Linked DNA regions of Homo sapiens: all the other regions are reported to be linked to region 1. The links are microRNA targets in miRTarBase. Many come from high-throughput screens and were not tested one by one. Region 1 holds a microRNA gene; each other region holds the end of a gene's coding sequence.
The links. The annotated mature microRNA hsa-miR-3929 reads GAGGCUGAUGUGAGUAGACCACU and lies in region 1 at 1,522-1,544, opposite strand. An mRNA with a match to its seed (bases 2 to 7 or 8) in the 3' UTR can be bound and repressed. Matches are read on the target gene's strand: a 7mer-m8 pairs with bases 2 to 8, a 7mer-A1 pairs with bases 2 to 7 and ends in A, and an 8mer does both.

Region 1 (3,658 bases):
AAAACTACAGAATATCCCTCATGAACCTAAACAAACTACTAGCAAATCAAATACAAAAATACATGCAAAAGTTCATATTCCATGAAGAAGTAGGTGTATCACAAGAGTGCAATGTTGATTTAACATATTAAATTGTCAATGTAATCCACCATATTAACAAAACGAAAGAGAAGACAAATATGTAATCATTTCATAAGCAGAAACATTATTTCCCTAAGTTCAACTGCCATTTATGATAATGGTGAAATATTGTCCTCTTTTATTATCAAGAACAAGCTAAAAATGTTTACTGTCACCACTTCTGTTCAACATTGTACTGGAGGTCCTAGGCAGTAAAATAAAACAAAATGAAATAATAGGCATAAAGATTGAAAATTAAGAAGTAAAACTCCCTTTGTGTATAAATGACATCATTGTTTGCAAAGAGAATCCTGAGGAATTTATGTAAAAATAGCAAGGTCACAGAATACAAGATCAATCTGAAAAAATCAATTATATTTCGATTTACTACCAGCAAAAAAAAAGTTTAAAAACCAATTTTATTTATAATGATATCTAGAACATTAAATACTTAGAAATAAGGTTAACAAAAGGTATTTAATAACTCTATGCAGAAAACTATGAATTTAGAAGACCTAAATACATGGAGAGGCATTTCATGTTCATAAGTTGAAAAACCCAATGCTTTTATAATATACAGTCTCCTCAGATTGATCTATAGATTCAATGCAATCTGACTGATAATTAGGTCAAGTTTTCAGAGAAACTGACATATTGATTCTGACATTTATATGGAAATACTAAGGTCCTAGGATCTCTAAATTAATACTGACAAGACAGAATATGAGGACTTCCACAACCTGAGTTTGAGGCTCCAGTAGCCAAGCTAATGTACACAAAGCAAGTTTATGCAAATACATGAATAAAACACAACAGGCAGCCTAGACCTAGACTCACACCTATAAGGTTACTTAATGACTGACAAAGCCACCGAAGCTCCAATGGGAAAAGTAAGCGCTTTTCTAGAAATGATGCTGGAAAAATAGATATCCATATGGGGAAGAAAATGAATCTCAATTCCTATCTCAACTCATGCACAAAATTAATTCAATATGGATGATAGACCTAAACATAATACAGCTAAAATTATAGTAGTCCCCCTTTAACCACAGTTTTGCTTTCCATGGTTTCAGTTACCCTCAGCCAACCAAAGGGACATGTGGCTCATCATCCACTCACATCCAAAAAACTAAAAGAGAAATTTTAGAAATAAATAATTCATCCCTTTTTAAAAAAATTTTTTTGAGACAGAATCTCACTCTGTCACCCAGGCTGGAGTGCAATGGCGCAGTCTTGGCTCACTGCAGCCTTGGTCTCTCAGGCTCAAGCAATCCTCCAACCTCAGCCCCCTGAGTATCTGGGACTATAGACATGCACCACCACGCCTGGTTAATTTTTGTATTTTTTGTAAAGATAGGAGTTCGCCATGTTGCCCAGGCTGGTCTTGAACTCCCGGGCTCAAGTGGTCTACTCACATCAGCCTCCCAAAGTGCTGGGATTACTGGTGTGAGCCACTGCACCTGGCCAACTCATACGTTTTAAATTGTGTGCTGTTCTGAGTAGCATGATGAAATCTCAGGCCATCTGTCCCGTCCCTCCTAGGATGTGAATCATCCCTTTGTCTCGTGGATCTACACTGTAGATGCTACCTGCCTATGGGTCATTTAGTAGCCATCTGGGTTATCAGATCAACTGCCGTGACATCACAGTGCTGATGTTCAAGTAACCCTTATTTTAGTTCGTAATGGCCCCAGTGTGCAAGAATAGTGGTGCTGGCATATCATTATAATTGTCTGTTTTATTATAATTTGCTGTAATCTCTTCCTGTGCCTAATTTATAAATTAAACTTTATAATAATATAATATTATATATAATATAATATAATTTATAAATTAAACTTTATAATAATACATATAGGAAAACAACACAGTATATATACAGTTCTTTAGTATCCATGGTTTCAGGTATCCACTGGGGGGTCTTGGAATATGTCCCCAGCAGATAAGCAGGGTATACTATATAGAACTGTCAGGAGAAAAATATTTGAAACCTGAGAATAGGCAAAGATTTCATAGGTCACAATTATAATGATATGCCAGCATCACTTGTCCATGACAAGGTGCTTTACAGAGGCCATTGTCTCCTTTTAGCTAGGCAGTGAAAAGCACATTACAAGTAAAGAAAACAGCAGTTTTCTTAGACTGTTTACTTTGCAATAAAGGAATACCTGAAACTGGGTAATTTATAAAGAACAGGGGTTTATTTGGCTCATGCTTCTGCAGCCTATACAGGAAGCATAGGGCCTCAGAAGCTTCCAATCATGGCAGCAGGTGAAGGGGAGCCAGTATATCACGTAGTGAGAGAGGGAGCAAGAGAGAGAAGGAAGTCTCAGGCTCTTTTAAATAACCAGATCTTGGGCGAATTGGTAGAGCAAGAACTCCCTCATTACTGCAAGGATGGCACCAGGCCACTCAAGAGGGATCCACCCCTGTGATGCAAACACCTCCCACTAGGCCCACCTCCAACATTGGGGTTGCCATTCCAACGTGAGATTTGTAGGGCACAAGTATCCAAACTATATCAATGTCCTCTGAGTGTGTGTGTGTGCACGCGTGAACTCATGGGGTTTCTTATTCTCATAAATTCTGGCAGTCCTCTATTAATTACTTACTTCAGACACAAATTATAACCAGATATGGGACAATATAGTTACTAGGGAAAAAAGTTTACTTTCTAAAAAGAATTGGCATATTCTTTGGTTAATTAAGAGGAGAAAGTATCCAGAACCCTTTTCCAGTTCTCTTTGCAGAAGCGTATAATTGCTTTAAGGGTCTTTCTGGCGAAAAGTGATTAGAGGATACATTCCGCCAAGCACCAGGCTGCTCCCTCGGCATGTCCCCCACTTCTGCTGATGCACTAACGTGTCTCAAATCAGTTGCCAATTGGCAGGTGAATCCTATAAAACTGCAAACCTCTGGTGGAGAAACATTATATAAAAGGAATGTAATTGCAGGAAGCTTTCCACCTGCCCCATTCTAGAGGCATCGCAAAGCAGATTTTGTCTAAAGGCTTACCAGAAAGTGAGAGGGCTCCAAAAGGACTTAGAAGGCCCATCAAGCACAACCTGGCATTGTTCATCCCTAATAATTATATGTGCAGAGTTTTATAGTAGCTCTTCTCCTAGTGGTTCTTTTCATCAGCCTTGTCAATGGAGTGAGAATAAACCTCCCTTCCTGTCTGCCACCCCACCCCACCCCCACTGTGAAGCACCTGGGTTTTGTGTGGGGTTGACTCCCCCGTGCATCCCAGCATCAGCCCGGGCCTGACCAGTCTAGCCCAATCAGGGCATCCCCCACTCCCCTTGCTGTGGTATTTTGTTCAGGGATGAACTCCTGCAGAGAGAGTATGTCTTCATCAGAGACAACTGGCAGGCCTGCCCTGCCGAGGAAAGCCAGCCTGAAGACAAAGCCCACACAGGGCAAGAGAAACTAAGAGAAGTTAAGACAGAACCAGAACCCTGATCAAACCACACCTGGAGCCCACCAAGCATTTGTGTCGCAAAAACTTAGTGAATCCCATCTAATGTTCAAACCTGTG
Region 2 (3,000 bases), not on the chromosome of region 1:
CCCCTGCAGCTGCTCTGGGTAAGGGAGCAGGGCCAGCATTCTATCTCACTGCTGTTCTCTGCTCTCCCCGCAGGTGGAAGGCTTTAGGGCCACCATGGCGCAGCGCCTGGTGCGCGTGCTGCAGATCTGTGCTGGCCACGTGCCCGGTGTCTCAGCTCTGAACCTGCTGTCCCTGCTGAGAAGCTCTGAGGGCCCCTCCCTGGAGGACCTGTGAGGGTGGCTGGCCCCTGGGCTGCCCCTTCTCATGGCTTCGTGCTGACTCCATAAACATTCTCTGTTGAGGATGTCCAGTCAGGGCTTGACAGGCCCAGGCTCAGCCCGCCGTGGCTGGGAAGGTTCCCTGCAGTGCCAGTGCTGCAGCAGGGAGAGCTGGGCAGAAGCAGCGAGGGGGCCCAGCTGGCGAGACTGTAGCCCCCTCCCACTCCCACACTCACTCTTGCAGAGCCTGTGTCTTTAAGCAGCTGGCGTGTTACATCTCCATTTAAGGTTTCCTTTGAACAAAAGGTCTGTGGCTAAAAAAAGTTTAAAAATCACTGGTCTCATTCACCACTTTGACTTTGTAGATGAGGAAACTGACTCAGAACAATTAAGAGTAGGGCAGGGTGGGCCAGGTGCAGAGGCTCACGCCTGTAATCCCAGCACTTTGGGAGGCCGAGGTGGGTGGATCACTTGAAGTCAGGAATTCGAGACCATCCTGGCCAACATGGTGTATCCCTGTCTCTACAAAAATACAAAAATTAGCCAGATGTGGTGGTGGGCGCCTGTAGTCCCAGCTACTCAGGAGGCTGAGGCAGGAGAATCACTTGAACCCGGGAGGCGGAGGTTGCAGTGAGCTGAGACTGTGCCACTGCACTCCAGCCTGGGCAACACAGTGAGACTCCACCTCAAAAAAAAAAAAAAAAAAAAGCGAGACCAGCCTGGCCAACATAGTGAAACCCTGTCTCTACTAAAAATACAAAAATTAGCCAGGCATGGTGATGCAGGCCTGTAGTCTCAACTACTCGGGAGGCTGAAGCAGGAGAATCACTTGAACCTGGGAGGCGGAGGTGGTGTTGAACCGAGATTACACCACTGCACTCCAGCCTGGGCAACAGAGCGAGACTCCGTCTCAAAAAAAAAAAAAAAAAATGCTGGGCGCGGTGGTTCCCACCTATAATTCCAGCACTTTGGGAGGCCGAGGCGGGCAGATCACAAGGTCAGGAGATCGAGACCATCCTGGCTAACAGTGAAACTCTGCCTCTACTAAAAATACAAACAAATTAGCCAGGCATGGTGGCGGGCATCTGTAGTCCTAGCTACTTGGGAGGCTGAGGCAGAAGACCGGCATGAACCTGGGAGGCGGAGCTTGCAGTAAGCTGAGATCGCGCCACTGCACTCCAGCCTGGGCGACAGAGCGAGACTCTGTCTCAAAGAAAAAAAAAGGAGTGGGGCGGGGTAAGGGGAGCTTGGACTCGTTATGCCAGTCAGACTCCACATCCTGGCCCTGCTATTATAGAACCTGGTTGTTGCCTCTTGGAGCTTGTTTTCTCAGATGTGAATGGAGATGAGGTTCTGCTCACCTTGTCACGTTGGGAGGATTGAATGAGACGATGGACATGCCTGGGACTGTGTGACCCCCCATGCCTGCGAGTAGGTTGCTGTGTTCATAACATGTGTTAATGCCTTGCACCTTGCTAGGTAGGCACTCAGTGAACAGTAACTATTTGAAATCACATGGAAAGCCGAGGCGGGCGGATTGCCTGAGCTCAGGAGTTTGTGGCTGGCCTGGCAACACGGTGAAACCCCGTCTCCACTAAAATACAGAAAATTAGCCGGGCATGGCAGTCTGTGCCTATAGTCCCAGCTACTTGGGAGGCTGAGGCAGGAAAATTGCTTGAACCCAGGAGGCGGAGGTTGCAGTGAGCTGAGATCGTACCACTGCACTTCAGCCCAGGCAGCGGAGCGAGACTCTATCTCCAAAAAAGAAATCACACAGCGGAGTTCAAAAACTGGTGCAAATTAGGAATTACACCACTGTCAGAAGTTTGCAAGAAGTGAGAAAAGCTGGCTGGAGGTCTCATTTTGGGGTTGATGGCGAGAGATTGTACAGTGCCAGTTGCTTTCCTTCTCCCTTGGGTCTAATTGGAGATTGTAGAGGCATCAGAAGTGGACTCTAGAAATCCCATAGAGAGCCAGGTCCTGACTCCCTTGGAACATGACAGTGCCCTCCCCACATTCACCCTGCATGTGCCAGGGCATGCCCACCAGCCTCAGGCCTCAGGATGGACCCCAGTTGAAGCCCTGGGCAGCACTGCACCAGCACCTCGGGGCCTGTCTGCTTTTTTCTTTTTTTTTGGTTGGTGGGGTGTGGAGTCTTGCTCTGTCGCCCAGGCTGGAGTGCAGTGGCGTGATCTCAACTCACTGCAGCCTCTGCTCCCTGGTTCAAGTGATTCTCCTGCCTCAGCCTCCCGAGCAGCTGAGATTACAGGTGCACGCCACCATGCCCAGCTAATTTTTGTATTTTTAGTAGACACAGGTTTCGCCATGTTGGCCAGGCTGGTCTCAAACTCCTGACCTCACGTGATCTGCCACCCTTGGCCTCCCAAAGTGCTGGGATTACAGGTGTGAGAGTCACCGCGGCCGGCCTAAGGCCTCTCTGCTTTGATGTCACCATCGCAGCTGGGCCCATGCCCTTCACTGAGGGGTGGGCCGCCTTCTAACTCCTTGTAGGTGTCGGGGATGCGGCCCTATCTGCCCCTTTCTGTAGGTTCCTTCTGGAACTTAGCTCAGGCCCCACCCCTAGTGCTCAGTAAGGGTTTGTAGACACCTGGCTGACTTCCTGGCAGTCCCTTGGGCTCCGCTGAGGACTTCAGCCACGTAGATTCCGGTCGAGGCCCCACATGTCACCCGACATTTGCAGGCACGTCATGCTTCACAGAGCTCTTCTCACACAGCAGACCTGTGAGGTAGATGATGTTTCCCCAATTCACAGTTCATGAAACAGACCGTTGTCATGGGAGG
Region 3 (3,658 bases), not on the chromosome of region 1:
CCTGGTGGGGACTTGGAAAACTTTTATGTCTAGCTAGAGGATTGTAAATGCACCAATCAGCACTCTGTGTCTAGCTCAAGGTTTGTAAACGCACCAATCAGTGCTCTGTGTCTAGCTAATCTAGCGGGGACTTGGAGAACTTGTGTCTAGCTAAAGGATTGTAAACGCACCAATCAGCACTGTGTCTAGCTAAAGGTTTGTAAACGCGTGTCTAGCTAATCTAGTGGGGACTTGGAAAATTTTTGTCTAGCTAGAGGCTTGTAAATGCACCAATCAGCACTCTGTGTCTAGCTCAGGGATTGTAAATGCACCAATCAGCACCCTGTCAAAACGGACCAATATGCTCTCTGTAAAATGGACCAATCAGCAGGATGTGGGTGGGGCCGGATAAGGGGATAAAAGCAGGCTACCCGAGCCAGCAGCGGCAAGCCACTCAGGTCCCCTTCCATGCTGTGGAAGCTTTGTTTTTTCACTCTTCACAATAAATCTTCCTGCTGGTCACTCTTTGGGTCCGCGCCGCCTTTAAGAGCTGTAACACTAACCGCAAAGGTCCGCAGCTTCACTCCTGAAACCAGCAAGACCACGAACCCACCGGAAGGAACTAACAACTCCAGATGCGCTGCCTTTAAGAGCCGTAACACTGCTAAGGTCTGCAGCTTCACTCCTAAGCGAGACCACAAACCCACCAGAAGTTAGAAACTCTGGACACGTCCGAACATCAGAAGGAACAAACTCCAGACACACCATGTTTAAGAATTGTAACACTCACCGTGAGGGTCCACGGCTTCATTCTTGAAGTCAGCAAGACCAAGAACCCACCAATTCCAGACACATTAGGGTGGTAGGCCAGGCATGGGGGAGATCCTACATTCCAGGTACCCCTAGCCCTTCCCCTAAGCAGGCTAACCTTGGGGATTCCCTGGAGATCAACCACTTCCAGTGAGAGGGAGTGGACAAAAGCCTCTGGACCAGCCATTCCTTCTCTCTCTCCAAGTCCTTTTTCCTCTCTAGCATCAAAACCAAGCCTAAGTATTTTGAGGTTACATGAACATCTCTCCCCTTCTTTTCTGTGGCAGAGTCCCTTAGCAAATAGAGGCACTGGGGCCTGAGTGGATAGCTCTCCAAGGTACACTCATTGACACAGGGTATCAGGTAGGGCTAGCCCCAGCCCAAGGGAGTAAGGCAAACTGTCAGAACCTGGGCCATATGGGCCCTGGAGTGTGAGGAGAGACAAATGGCTAAAGGCCCTGGCACCATTCCTGGATGTAATTTAGCCACCCGAGCATGGCTAAAACACTGGGTACTGAGATTGGAGGATTTAAGAGGAGCTGTGTTTAAAATACCCTTAAACCTGGTATTGGAAGGCTGATGATGCAGCATTGCTAGATCCCTGTCATTGAAGGCCAAGGTGGCGTGGCTATGTTTAAGTCCTGAGTCTGAAGAACTTTTAGAGTGTGGTTAAAGAATCTTGGATTTGGGACTGGAGGGTTAGGAAGGGGACCTGGTAAAGGTGTCCCTCAGATTGTAGGGCTGGAGACTGAACTCTGAGTAAAATCTAAAGGTGGGGTAGGAGAGGAAACAGCAAAGGCTAGAGATGTAGAAAAAAATAAAGCAGGAGAGTGTCATGGAAGCTAATGGAAGAACACAGTTGCAGAAGGAAGTAGTCAGATGCAAAGACCATTCCTCCAAGGGGACCGTCACTTGACACCTCTGCTCTCAGAAGTTAGATCTCTGTCATCTTCACATCTAAAGGAATGTAAGGGGTCAAAAGACTGTCCCCAAAGCTCTTAGAACAAGAGTGGGGTGGGCGTACAGTGGATAGATTTGACTCCAAGTATCTCTTAAGGGGCCACTTCCAGCCAACACCTTACTCTCACTCCATGAAGGTTTCTCCCGAGTGTGTCCTCTGACACGTGACAAGTAATGATGTCCACGTACAGCTCTGTCCACATTACCTTACAAACAAGGCTTCTCCCTAAGCATTTCCGCTGGTGTGGCTGATGGCTGACTTGTTGCTAAAATCACATCCTCACTCCTTGCACCTCTAAAGCTTTTCCCCGAGTGTATCTTCTGGTGTATGATGAGCTGTGACTTTCTCCTAAAGCTTTGCCCACACTCCACGCATGCATAAGGCTTCTCCCCCGAGTGTATCCTCTGATGTAAGCTGAGAGTGGACTTGTGGCTAAAGTTTCGCCCACACTCGATGCATGCGTAAGGTTTCTCTCCTGTGTGTGTCCTCCAGTGTCTGTTGAGGAGTATCTTCCGGCCAAATCCCCGCCCACATTCCCCACACACATAAGGCTTCTCCCCTGAATGTGTCTGCTCGTGTGCGAGGAGAGTTGATTTATCACAAAAGCCTCGCCCACACTGGCTGCACACATAAGGTTTTTCCTTGGAGTGTGTACTCCGGTGGTAGTGGAGGGTTGACTGAGCTATAAAGCCTCGCCCACACTCTCCGCAGACATAAGGCTTTTCTCCTGTGTGTGTCCTCTGGTGTCTGATGAGCTGTGATTTCGTGATAAAGCCTTGCCCACACTCCGTGCATGCATAAGGCTTCTCCCCAGAGTGTATCCTCTGATGTACACTAAGAGCGGACTTGAGGCTAAAGTTTCGCCCACACTCAAAGCACGTGTAAGGCTTCTCTCCCGTGTGTGTCCTCCAGTGTCCATTGAGGACTATCCTCCGGCTAAATCCCCGCCCACATTCCCCACACACATAAGGCTTCTCCCCTGAGTGTGTTCTCCGATGTGATTTGAGCGACGACTTCTGGCTAAATCCATGCCCACACTCCTCACACACGTGAGGTTTCACCTCTGAATGTGTCCACTGGTGTAGGAGGAGAGTTGATTTAGCACGAAAGCCTCGCCCACACTCTCTGCAAACAAAAGGCTTCTCATCTGAATGTATCCTCTGGTGTGTGTTGAGACATGATCTCCTTACAAAGCCTCGGCCTCAATCTCTGCACACATAAGGCTTATCCCCCGTGTGAATTCTCTGGTGCTTAATGAGCTCTGACTTTTCACGAAAGCCTCGCCCACACACTGTGCACATAAACGATTTCTCCCTTGTGTGTGTCCTCTGATGTCTGATGAGGTATGGCTTGCAGCTAAAGCCTCGCCCACAATGGCTGCACACATAAGGTTTCTCCCCGGAGTGTGTACTCAGGTGGTTGCGGAGGACTGACTCAACTATAAAGCCTCGCCCACACTCTCCGCAGACATAAGGCTTTTCTCCTGTGTGTGTCCTCTGGTGTATGATGAGCTGTGACTTCCTGCTAAAGCCTCGCCCACACTCCCTGCACACCTGTGACTGCCTTTTGTCTGAAGATTTTTCTGCTGTGACTGCCTTCTGTCTGAACAGGTTTGACTTCTGGTTAAAAGCTAGTGCACACTCCCCAAACGTGACTGCTCCAAACCCTGGGGTTTCTGCCCTCTTGGAAATTCTGTCTACTTCCTCAGAGCTTGCATTCTGGGCTGGACTGAGCTGTATCTCTAATATTCTGTTGCCTCCCCAAGAGCTTATTGGTGGTCTCTGGAACAGGCTAGAGAAACCCACTAAAGCCCCCCTTTCATTTGTACTCCAAAACAAGGGTCTGACGCCTCCTTCCACTCGTTGATCTTCTGCTTCAGCCCCCCTGTGATTTTTATCAGAAGGATGT
Region 4 (3,000 bases), not on the chromosome of region 1:
GTGATTTTCAAAGCATTTCTCTTTCCCAGATCCAAGATCAAACTCAGCTGAAGTCAGTTCCTCTCAACCTGCCCTGGCATCAAAGTCTCAAAGCAAGTGGGGGCCAACCAGCAACAACCCCAGGGGAGCTTTGACAACCACAGAATTTGAGATGGCTGGTAATCGTTCTCAGAACATAAAACACAAAGTAAGTCGGCACATTGATAGAACCTCCTCTATAAATTTCCTATATCTTAGTCACACACCAGAGTTAAGCCATCTGTCTTTGCTCATTTTTCCCTCTATGGACAACATAATATGTTGGGAAGGGCTTTCCAGGAGGGCATAACCGGGAGATGAATCTTACATCACTGGGCAAGTTTCCACCTCTAGGCCTCAGCTTCCCTATCTGTAAAACGGAGATAATCCTACCTGCCTTCATAATACCTTACAATTGTCACAAATAACCTTGTACACAAAAGGCCTAGGATATATGTAGATGCTTTGCAATATTATCTTTCTTCCAGTTTCTTGTATTTTTTAAGGTATTCAAATACATCTATTTTAACATTTTTCTATATATACATTTGCTACGGAAAATTGAAATCGCACACTGAAATATCCTTTTATTGCAACTCAAATTTTCAAAAACCAGAAAATCAAATTATTATGCTCTAGCCAAATTATGTAATGTTTTCTTTTTCTTTTCTCTGTCACCCAGGCTGGACTGTAGTGGAACAATCACAGTTCACTGCAGCATCGGCCTCCTGGGCTCAAGTGATCTTACTGCCTCAGCTTCCCGAGTAGCTGGAACTATGGGTGAGCAACACCACAGCCAGCTAATTTTTTAAGTTTTTGTAGAGACGGGGTCTTGCTGTGTTGCACAGGCTGGTCTCAAACTCTGGCTTCAAGTGATCCTTCCACCTCAGCCTCCCAAAGTGCTGAGATTACAGGTGTGAGCCACTGCCCCAATGGTATCTTTATATTATTTTTCCTTACAAGTTACTTCAAATTCTTGATGTTGAATTTCATCTCACTGACTTCAGGCTTTTAAAACACATGGGAATACTTGAGACCTAAGAATGGTTGTGAGTCAAATAAAAAAGTAGAACTAAAGTATACTGAAGTTATTCAAATACATTCAAACTATAAAGATCCCTTATAGATTACTGGCATCAAGGTAGGAAGGAAAAGATACAAGAAGTAAAATGCAACACTCATTACAGGTTGTCAACATTATTGGTATACAGTTTATCCTAACACAGAGCAGCCTTCTTAACCTGCTCCATAAAATTACCAGCAAGAAAGAAAAGTACAAGAATAAGGTTCACAGCTGAATTGGCTTGGTGTCCTAATTCCCTATTCCAGTATTCTCAGAAGGATCCCATCTATGATATATGCAGAAATCACAGCCACATTTGAATGGTTCAATCTTGATTCATACTGAACTCCCTTAAGCCCAGCAGTTTCTCATTCTTAAAAGGTAGGTTATTAGAGCCCCAAAGCAATTTTCATAACAAATCTACCTTTGTATATTTAAGAATATGCATTAAGGCTAGGAGTGGTGGCTCACGCCAGTAATCCTAGCACTTTGGGAGGCCGAGGTGGGCAGATCACAAGGTCAGATTGAGACCATCCTGGCCAACACGGTGAAACCCCATCTCTACTAAAAATACAAAAATTTGCCCGGGCGGTGGCTCACGCCTATAATCCCAGCACTTTTGGGAGGCCAAGGCGGGCGGATCACGAGGTCAGGAGATCAAAACCATCCTGGATAACATGGTGAAACCCCATCTCTACTAAAAATACAAAAAAATTAGCTGGGTGTGGTGGTGGGCACCTGTAGTCCCAGCTACTCCTGGGACTACTCGGGAGGCTGAAGCAGGAGAATGGCATGAACCCAGGAGACAGAGCTTGCAGTGAGCCGAGATCGCGCCACTGCACTCAAGCCTGGGCGACAGAGCGAGACTCCTCTCAAAAAAAAAAAAAAAATTAGCTGGGTGTGGTGGTGCATGCTTGTAGCTCCCCGGCTACTCAGGAGGCTGAGGCAGGAGAACCTCTTGAACCCAGGAGGTGGAGATTGCAGTGAGCTGAGATTGCACCACCGCACTCCAGCCTGGCAACAGAACAAGACTCCGTCTCAAAAAAAAAAAAAAAAAGAGAATATGCATTAGGCAAGACAATATAAACCTCCAATTACAAAAATCAATTAAGAAAGGTTAACTGTTCTTGCACTTGTGGGATGAACATGAAGATCTGAATGGGCCATGAATAGTCTGGCTGGGGGTTTTGAAGCAGGAAGTCTTGGAAGCCAGTAAATTGTAAAGTTGTCCAAGAGACCCAGAGCCCAACTCAAAAGTCCAATCCTCCCATAGCCACTGTCTATCCCAAGACAAAGTCGAAAAAAGCTAATTAGTACCCACACCCAGCTCTAAGTCACACAAGAACAAATCTCTCCCTGGGCCCTGTGCAGGCCAGGCCAGAAGAGCAAGGGCAACTCAGGATACTCCATTTATTGAACTCCAAATCTAACAAAATTAAGATCGCTGCAGTGTTTCAAAAGGACCTTGACCTTGTTCCCACTGCTATGCTCACTAAAGTCAGCTCATTTATGTTTCTGTAGCCTCTGTATCTGTAGCTTCTGCATCTGTTTTCTGAGAAGCTAACAGGACTTCACGTGCCCGTTTCCTTCGCAGTCTCTCAGCATTTGTGATCATCATAGGATGCAGAGGGAAAAAGCCAGCAAGACCTAAAAGTAACAGATTTTTCACTTATTATAACACAGTATAAGCCAATGCTTCCCTAGGAACTCTGTCTCACAGAACTGAGGTCTGAGATCTGACCCAGTGCATGGATGCAAACCATGCTCCTCACTTGCCAAACTCTGTACTACTTCTCCCCGGCAAGGAGACAGTGGATGTCTACTTCCCTAACAATATTCCCCTTACTTTAAAAAACGTAAACTGACAGATGGCCATTCAAAACATACTATTCCTATTTTTAGCATAAAATACCAGTCAC
Region 5 (3,656 bases), not on the chromosome of region 1:
TAAATTGGCAACATACACTAAGAACATGAATGTCATTAAATACCTTTGCCTAGTGGCTGAACCAGAATCCCAACCCCAGGACTACTGTTGAGGCCACATTCTAGGTCCCCAAGAGTGGGCTCCTTCACACCAGGCACAGTACCTCACTATAAACTCAGCCTACAGACCTGATGGCCAAGCAGTTCCCTGCTGGGCCAAGGAAGGGCTGGAGGAGGATGGCAGGGCCACTTGGATGCTAGCCAGGAGCAACTGGAATGGGAAATTCTTAAGTGTCTCTGATATGGCACAGAATGACCTCAAAACTCAGGTGATAAAATTCTTGGATAAAAAGAATTGCTGGGTGTGGTGGCTCACAGCTGTGATCCAAGCACTTTGGGAGGCTGAGGCGGGCAGACTGCTTAAGCCCAGGAGTCCTGGGCAACGTACAAAACCTCATATCTACAAAACAATATAAAAATTAGCTGGGCGCAGTGGCACACACCTGTAGTTCCAGCTACTTGGGAGGGTGAGGCAGGAGGACTGCTTAAGCCCAGGAGTTTGAGACTGCAGTGAGCCATGACTGTACCACTGCACTCCAGCATGGGGGACAAAGCCAGACCCTGTCTCCCTCAGGAAAAAAAAAAAAAAAGCTAAAAGCCAGAATAGGCAAATATATAGAGATAGATATTAGACAAGTAATTGCCTGGGGCTAGGAGGTATATGCTGCGGGAGAGCAGAACAAGGGAGAAGAGAAAAGATGTGCGTACCAAAAGGATGTGAGGCCCTGAGCCCAGGGCAGGTAAGGCATGGGACTGCCTTATTTTACCCTGGCATTTAGGACAGTACTCCACAAACCACAAATTCTTATAAATCACAGCCAGTGAAAGTATGCTCAAAATCCAGAAAGCTCTTTTAAAAAAGGTCTCAACACTTTGAGATGTTAGTCTTGAAATAAGTTAATGTTTCAAATTATATTCATTCCTTTAAATGGATTAAATTGCTATTTCTTGACCCGGCAAAATTTTACCTTGGTAGATCATTCAATAAAGCAGCACTGTGCCCTTCTCTAAGTCTGTGGTGTTGTACCGGCTCCTGCCATCATTTTTCACAGCTCTTTGAGGAGCAAAGAGGTGGAGGACTTGGTAGACACTAAGTAGCAAGTTGTGATAAGAATCAGAAACAGACACCAACTTCTTGAATCTCAACTAAGGTTTCTTTAGCCACATTCTACACAAAGATAAAATCTTAAGCCATTCATTAAAATCTTCAAAATTATATGTATTTGATAATAAACATCACATAGAGCAAATGGTTAAGTCACTAACACATTCTCTTTAACAGCAATTTCAGTTTTATAAAACTACTTTCAGATATTGTTTCATTTTGTATCATGATTTTTAAGTTTTCTCACTGCAGCTGGAATTAATTTCGTTACAATGAGAGGAGGAAGGGTTTAAAAATTAAAACGGTGTCTTCTAATTTTAAAATGTTAATTTAACAAAATATTCCATCCTATTTCAACATTATTAAACATAGGCCAGGCGTGGTGGCTCACGCCTGTAATCCCAGCACTTTGAGAGGCCAAGGTGGGTGATCACGAGGTCGAGATCGAGACCATCCTGGCCAACACAGTGAAACTCCGTCTCTACTAAAAATACAAAAATTAGCCGGGCGTGGTGGCATGCGCCTGTAGTCCCAGCTACTCGGGAGGCTGAGGCAGGAGAATCGCTTGAACTTGGGAAGTGGAGGCTGCAGTAAGCCAAGATCGCGCCACTAGCACTCCAGACTGGCGACAGAGTGAGACTCCGTCTCAAAAAAAAAAACCAAAAAACAAACAAAAAACCATTACTAAACATCAAAAGAATCATTCAAATACACTGGTTTTATCAAAAAACATGAAAAAGCCAAAATATAAATTTTCATGTTAGCTAGTCTTCCAATTTCATTTTATCCTAAGCAACTTAGGTCTCAGTTTTGTAATGTGACATTAATATAATGTTTATGGATGGGTGTGATGGCTGATGCCTGTAATCCCAGCACTTTGGGAGGCCCAGGTGGGCGGGTGGCTTGAGCCCAGGAGTTCAAGACCAGCCTGGACAACACAGTGAGACCCTGTCTCTATGAAAAATTGAAAATTAGCTGGGTGTGGTGGTGCACACCAGTAGTCCCAGCTAGTCAGGAAGCTGAGGTGGGAGGATGCCTTGAGCCAAGGAGGTCAATGCGGTGAGCCATGATTGTGGCACTGCACTCCAGTCTGGGTGACAGAATGAGACCGTCTCAAACAAAACAAAACAAGAAAACAAAAGATAATGTTTATCATGTCCACCTCCACAGGACAATGAGATGTAATTATAATAGGAAATATGATGGGTATGTTTCAGGGAGAATGAGCACATCTACCAGTACTGAATCAGCTTTGATGTTCAGAAACATCAAAGAAATATGGTCTCATCACTTAACACAGATGATACCTTAGAAGTTTCGTTTGTTTCTACTCTAAATAGAAGGGTCTTCTTTCCAGAACGACAGATCCGATACACTGTGGAAGAAAGAAATATAAGGAATTACAACCTAAACCCAAAACTGGCCCCAGGAAGAAACTAGTTGGAATGGCAGAAGGAGCTCCCAGCTAAGAGCTGTGTTGGCTGGGCCAGCTCTCTAGGCATCAAGAGGGGAGTGGACTCAGGTGGGCTTGAGTCCTCAGCAAGAGAGAGACTCCAAATGCTGCAGCTGTGACACCCCACAGTGCTCTGAGTAACCAAGGCAGTGGCGGCGGGGTGACAGAGGCTGTTCTTTCTGTCACTGGGCTCCAAGGGGCAGGAGCAGCGGGGTGAACACACTGAAATGCAAGACTGACTGTGCGCTACAGGCCGTGCTGAGCTAGAGCCTCTGCCTGGAGGGAAAGTACCAAGCTCCCAGGCAACAGCTTTACGAATTCTGGCTACTACACCAAGTCTAAATACATGACGATTTTCACAACATCAATGAGAAATTGTTCTTTAAAGTCTGAATAAATAAATTCTAGCTTTTCTTTTCAGTGTCTTAAAAACAAAGCAAAACAGACATGAGCAACATGAAGTGATATGTTTATCCAACTGTGTGTTGTTGAATCAACTTTTAGTTAAAATGTTAGAGAGGGACAAATAAGTACAGTGTGTCGATGTGCGGTGCTGTGAGGGCACAGACCAGTGATCAGAACACAACACCTGCGGCCTCTCCCATCCTGACAAAGTCTCTGCATGCCAACTCCAGCGACAGGGTGCTAGGACAGCGCAGGGATGAAATACTGAAGGGACACGTCTTCATGAAGCAGATCAAAATGCACCATCTTGTTATTCACAATATCTGGGAAGAGAAAAGCCATGATTTTAGAGACCTAGTGCAGCACACACATTTTGATCTCTACTTTTTCAGAACAGCCTTCCCAGCCTGCACCTCCTGTTTTAGGCATCTGTCTTCCCTGAGGCAGCTGCAGAGACCACAGTCTCTCACTCTCACTGCCACAGCTGAGGCTACATCACGGCCCCAGCACTGGCGGCTCCCTGTGCGAGGAGAGGAAAAGTGAAGCGGCCCAAGCCCTTGGCAAAACACCCAGCAGGCTGGCTTCCTGGCAAACCACATTCACCCACATGAGCATCCTTCTGCAGCGAAGAGCAGCTCCTCACCAGTGAGTGGAG
Region 6 (3,658 bases), not on the chromosome of region 1:
ATACAAAACGAATTTTCAGGCACAAATAGTCACCAGATAATGCATACCGTAATTTAGCAGACTTAACCAAACAATAAACACCCCTACAAAAGTGTCACTATTTTATCACTTTGTGCTGTACTCTTCTCCCTATACATCTTTAATAGTGGTCACTTCTACTTTACTTCTAGCATTCAATTTAGACATCTCAACCCCAAATTTAATAATCTGTTTTATCAAACATTTGTTTTGAGAACAAAATTTCTATAAATTATCTGACAAATCAAAGCAGAACCTTTAATTGTAGAACACAAATGAAAAATAATATACAAGAAACCTTATCTCTTCAACTTCAAGGCTAATACCTGGGTGTTGGAAAACTGGCCAAAGATAAATAAATTTTACTATATTTATTTTTCTGCACTGGGTCAAGATTTCTATTATAAATGATATGTTACTTACGATACTGTCGTTTCAAAAAAGGGCTTTCCAAGAAGCCTTTAGTAAAGTTCTTCTATGCTGGGTATGTACTTGGTTCCTGTATGTTTTAATCTGAACTATTCGAGAATTACTTATTTGTTGAACATAGTCTATTAGAAAAAAATACTAAATCGCTGGGTGCGGTGGCTCACGCCTGTAATCCCAACACTTTGGGAGACCGAAGCGGGCTCATCACGAGGTCAGGAGATGGAGACCATCCTGGGTAACACGGTGAAACCCCGTCTCTACTAAAAATACAAAAAAAATTAGCCGGGCCTGGTGGCAGGCGCCTGTAGTCCCAGCTACTCGGGAGGCTGAGGCAGGAGAATGGCGTGAACCCGGGAGGCGGAGCTTGCAGTGAGCCGAGATCGCGCCACTGGACTCCAGCCTGGGCGACAGAGTGAGACTCCGTTTCAAAAAAAGACAAAAGAAAAAATACTAAATCACAATTTTTATCAAACAGTTCAAAGTTTTCAACAATATCTATAAATGTATTCTTATACACCTGTATTCCTGATAGTATTACTCTGTAGTATGTTCGTAGCCAAGTATATGAAGTTTCCAATTTTCTGGGGAAATATTCAGTGTACTGAAAGTTAACTGCATTTAAAATCATTATAAACCAAAAAACACGTCAAATAGCATTATCGTATTATTATTTTTTGTTTGTTTGTTTTGAGACAGAGTCTTGCTCTGTCCCCTAGGCTGGAGTGCAGTGGCATGATCTCAGCTCCCTGCAACCTCTGCCTCCCGGGTTCAAGTGATTCTCCTGCCTCAGCCTCCTGAGTAGCTGGGACTACAGGTGCACGCCACTGCACCCAGCTAATTTTCGTATTTTTAGTAGAGACAGGGTTTCACCGTGTTGGCCAGGCTGGTCTCAAACTCCTGACCGCAGGTGATCCGCCCGCCTTGGCCTCCCAAAGTGCTGAGATTAAAGGCATGAGGATTATCATATTCTAAATGGCAATAGAGCACTAAGACTATAAATAAGTCTCAGTAGTAAAAACTAAACCTAAAAGAAAAATGTATCCAATGTGACACATTTTCAATATTTACAGAGCATCCTAAATATGGAATTTAAAAAATTACACAAGGTAGAAGCAAACAATCTATGAAAATATTAAAAATTACTATTATAACTGATTATATCATTAAGTGCAAACTCAAAAGAACTCAAGTATTTGTTGTAGGAAAAGAAAGTATACCTTTCATATACTTCTGATTCACCCAGTATGAAAACTAGTCATATTTTAAAGAAATAAATAATTTTATTTTTTGAGATGGAGTTTCGCTTTTGTTGCCCAGGCTGAAGTGCAATGGCGAGATCTCCGGCTCAGCGTAACCTCCGCCTCCTGGGGTTCAAGCAATTCTCCTGCCTCAGCCTCCCGAGTAGCTGGGATTACAGGCATGTGCCACCACACCTAGCTAATTTTGTATTTTTCGTAAAGATGGGGTTTCTCCATGTTGGTCAGGGTGGTCTTGAACTCCCAACCTCAGGTGATCTGCCCGCCTCAGCCTCCCAAAGTGCTGGGATTACAGGCGTGAGCCACCATGCCTGGCTTAAAGAGATAAATAATTAAGGGATCCTTAGAAGAAATGGAACAGTTTGTAAGAAAGATAAATTTCAGACTTTTTGCTAGGAGGGAAAACTATTAGGGCTACATACTCTATAATTCTAGAACCATTTCCTTCAGAATGCTTCTGGGTGACCTTTTCAAATTAAATTTTTAAAAATACAGTAAAAGATAGCAGTGTCAGTTGTTTGTGGGTGAAAATATAAACCCAACACTGGATATAATACAGATCAGAAAATTTTATTATTGAGATTACTTAAGGTTGTAAAAAAAAAAAAAAATTTACCTTTTGCCTGTTCTCATACTGACATGTCACCACTCCATTTCTAAGGATTCCAAGTCAATTAATGCAGAACTTTTAAAAGTATTAATGATCTCTACTGTACCAAACTGTGCATGCTATAGTTCATCAATCTTACTCTTCCAATAAACCTAGAGATTTAAATAAGATAAAAATGACAGCAGTCTCCATAATCTTAAAATCTAGGTGAAACAAATGTCCTTATGGTCCAATAATGTGTATAATAAAATGTAACCAGGTCACCAGACCAACATACTAGTGTGTAACTTTAATAATTTCTAGCAGCAAAACACCTGAAATAGCCAATAACAAATGTTTTCATTGGATTGTACATTCATTTCTTTGTGAGAAATAATTTTAAAAAGTACTCTAAAGTATTGTTCAACTGCAGGCAAACATGAAAGATATCAAAGATCTTGCTTTTCTCCATCTTTCCCAATGGAATCAGGTGCAACTGGAACCTTATTAGTTTCAACAAAAACAGATTCAAAGGCAGCTTCCTGTTCATCCAAAGAATCAGCAACCGTGGCTCCTTTAGTTAGTGTTGGGTTGGTAAAAGATTGTTGCTGCTTGGAAACTTTACTTGATTCCACCGTTTTCCTACCTTTTCTTTTGCCAAGAATTTTGACATAATTCGCAGGTATAAGTCCTGTTGTTTGGCCATCAAGGCTAGCCAGAAGCCAACCACGCACTTTGGGTTGTTGTTCTGATGGAAAAAAAAGACAGTCTTGTAATTACAATATACTTTGGAGGTCCAACAGAATAGTAATGGTAAAATATCACATTCAGGAAAATCTGTTATGCTTACATAGTAGATAACAAATAGTACATGCATATATATTCAAAATCAAATGCTGAGTAGGCTTAACAGTTCTAGGGTCCATTCTTCTATTTTTATTTTATACTTACTAAATATTTCCTTCCACCTTGAAGAACATAAAGTTTATTATCAGTTGGTCCATTCATAGAGTAGGGAGATTTAGTTCTCTCAAAACTGAAAACTAACATCAATGTCTTTCATATTTTAAACTGGAGTCTAAAAAATGAATATCTTATTCCTTCTCAACTGGGTAAGTTAGGAATAAGTATAGAAAAGATATACCTTTAATGCACTCAGCTTTCTTAGCCTACTTTTGGCAAAAATATAAAATTCGTTTCATGTGATTGTAATAAACAATCCTGAAGACAGTAAATATTAATTTCAATCCAAGATGGGCAAAAAATTGAAGACCTTTGTTATTTCTAGCCATATGATAAATAAAGGCAATACTCTAAGCTTAAAGAAAGATTATTTAATGTACTCAATTTTCTATTGTATTTTCCT

Region 2: the mRNA of CENPM is a reported target of hsa-miR-3929. The part of its 3' UTR that is shown has no 7-base or 8-base seed match.
Region 3: miRTarBase lists ZNF589 as a target of hsa-miR-3929. Seed matches in the 3' UTR shown: 7mer-m8 at 1,363-1,369.
Region 4: the mRNA of MRPS16 is a reported target of hsa-miR-3929. Seed matches in the 3' UTR shown: 7mer-m8 at 2,019-2,025 and 7mer-m8 at 1,853-1,859.
Region 5: the mRNA of HUS1 is a reported target of hsa-miR-3929. Seed matches in the 3' UTR shown: 7mer-m8 at 1,688-1,694.
Region 6: miRTarBase lists PEX13 as a target of hsa-miR-3929. Seed matches in the 3' UTR shown: 7mer-m8 at 1,763-1,769, 7mer-A1 at 1,161-1,167 and 7mer-m8 at 771-777.

The regions. Positions count from the first base shown.
Region 1 is chr18:35,932,567-35,936,224 of GRCh38, forward strand. It overlaps MIR3929 (microRNA 3929), which reads right to left and starts at 1,576; the gene lies at 1,522-1,576.
Region 2 is chr22:41,936,270-41,939,269 of GRCh38, reverse strand. CENPM (centromere protein M) reads left to right here. Exons shown (of 6, transcript NM_024053.5): 6 at 74-533. The coding sequence ends at 214. Among named protein-coding and RNA genes, the nearest start is that of CENPM, 9.4 kb to the left of the region's middle. RefSeq lists enhancers at 2,479-2,538, 2,579-2,718, 2,759-3,000, 2,380-3,000.
Region 3 is chr3:48,268,081-48,271,738 of GRCh38, reverse strand. It overlaps ZNF589 (zinc finger protein 589), which reads right to left. Exons shown (of 4, transcript NM_016089.3): 4 at 749-3,658. The coding sequence ends at 2,953. Among named protein-coding and RNA genes, the nearest start is that of ZNF589, 29 kb to the right of the region's middle.
Region 4 is chr10:73,248,264-73,251,263 of GRCh38, forward strand. MRPS16 (mitochondrial ribosomal protein S16) reads right to left here. Exons shown (of 3, transcript NM_016065.4): 3 at 586-2,728. The coding sequence ends at 2,589. DNAJC9-AS1 (DNAJC9 and MRPS16 antisense RNA 1) reads left to right here. Exons shown (of 4, transcript NR_038373.1): 2 at 30-187. Among named protein-coding and RNA genes, the nearest start is that of DNAJC9-AS1, 2.4 kb to the left of the region's middle.
Region 5 is chr7:47,962,115-47,965,770 of GRCh38, forward strand. It overlaps HUS1 (HUS1 checkpoint clamp component), which reads right to left. Exons shown (of 8, transcript NM_004507.4): 8 at 1,174-3,324. The coding sequence ends at 3,242. Among named protein-coding and RNA genes, the nearest start is that of PKD1L1, 15 kb to the left of the region's middle.
Region 6 is chr2:61,047,854-61,051,511 of GRCh38, reverse strand. It overlaps PEX13 (peroxisomal biogenesis factor 13), which reads right to left. Exons shown (of 4, transcript NM_002618.4): 4 at 1-3,040. The coding sequence ends at 2,742. Among named protein-coding and RNA genes, the nearest start is that of SANBR, 16 kb to the left of the region's middle.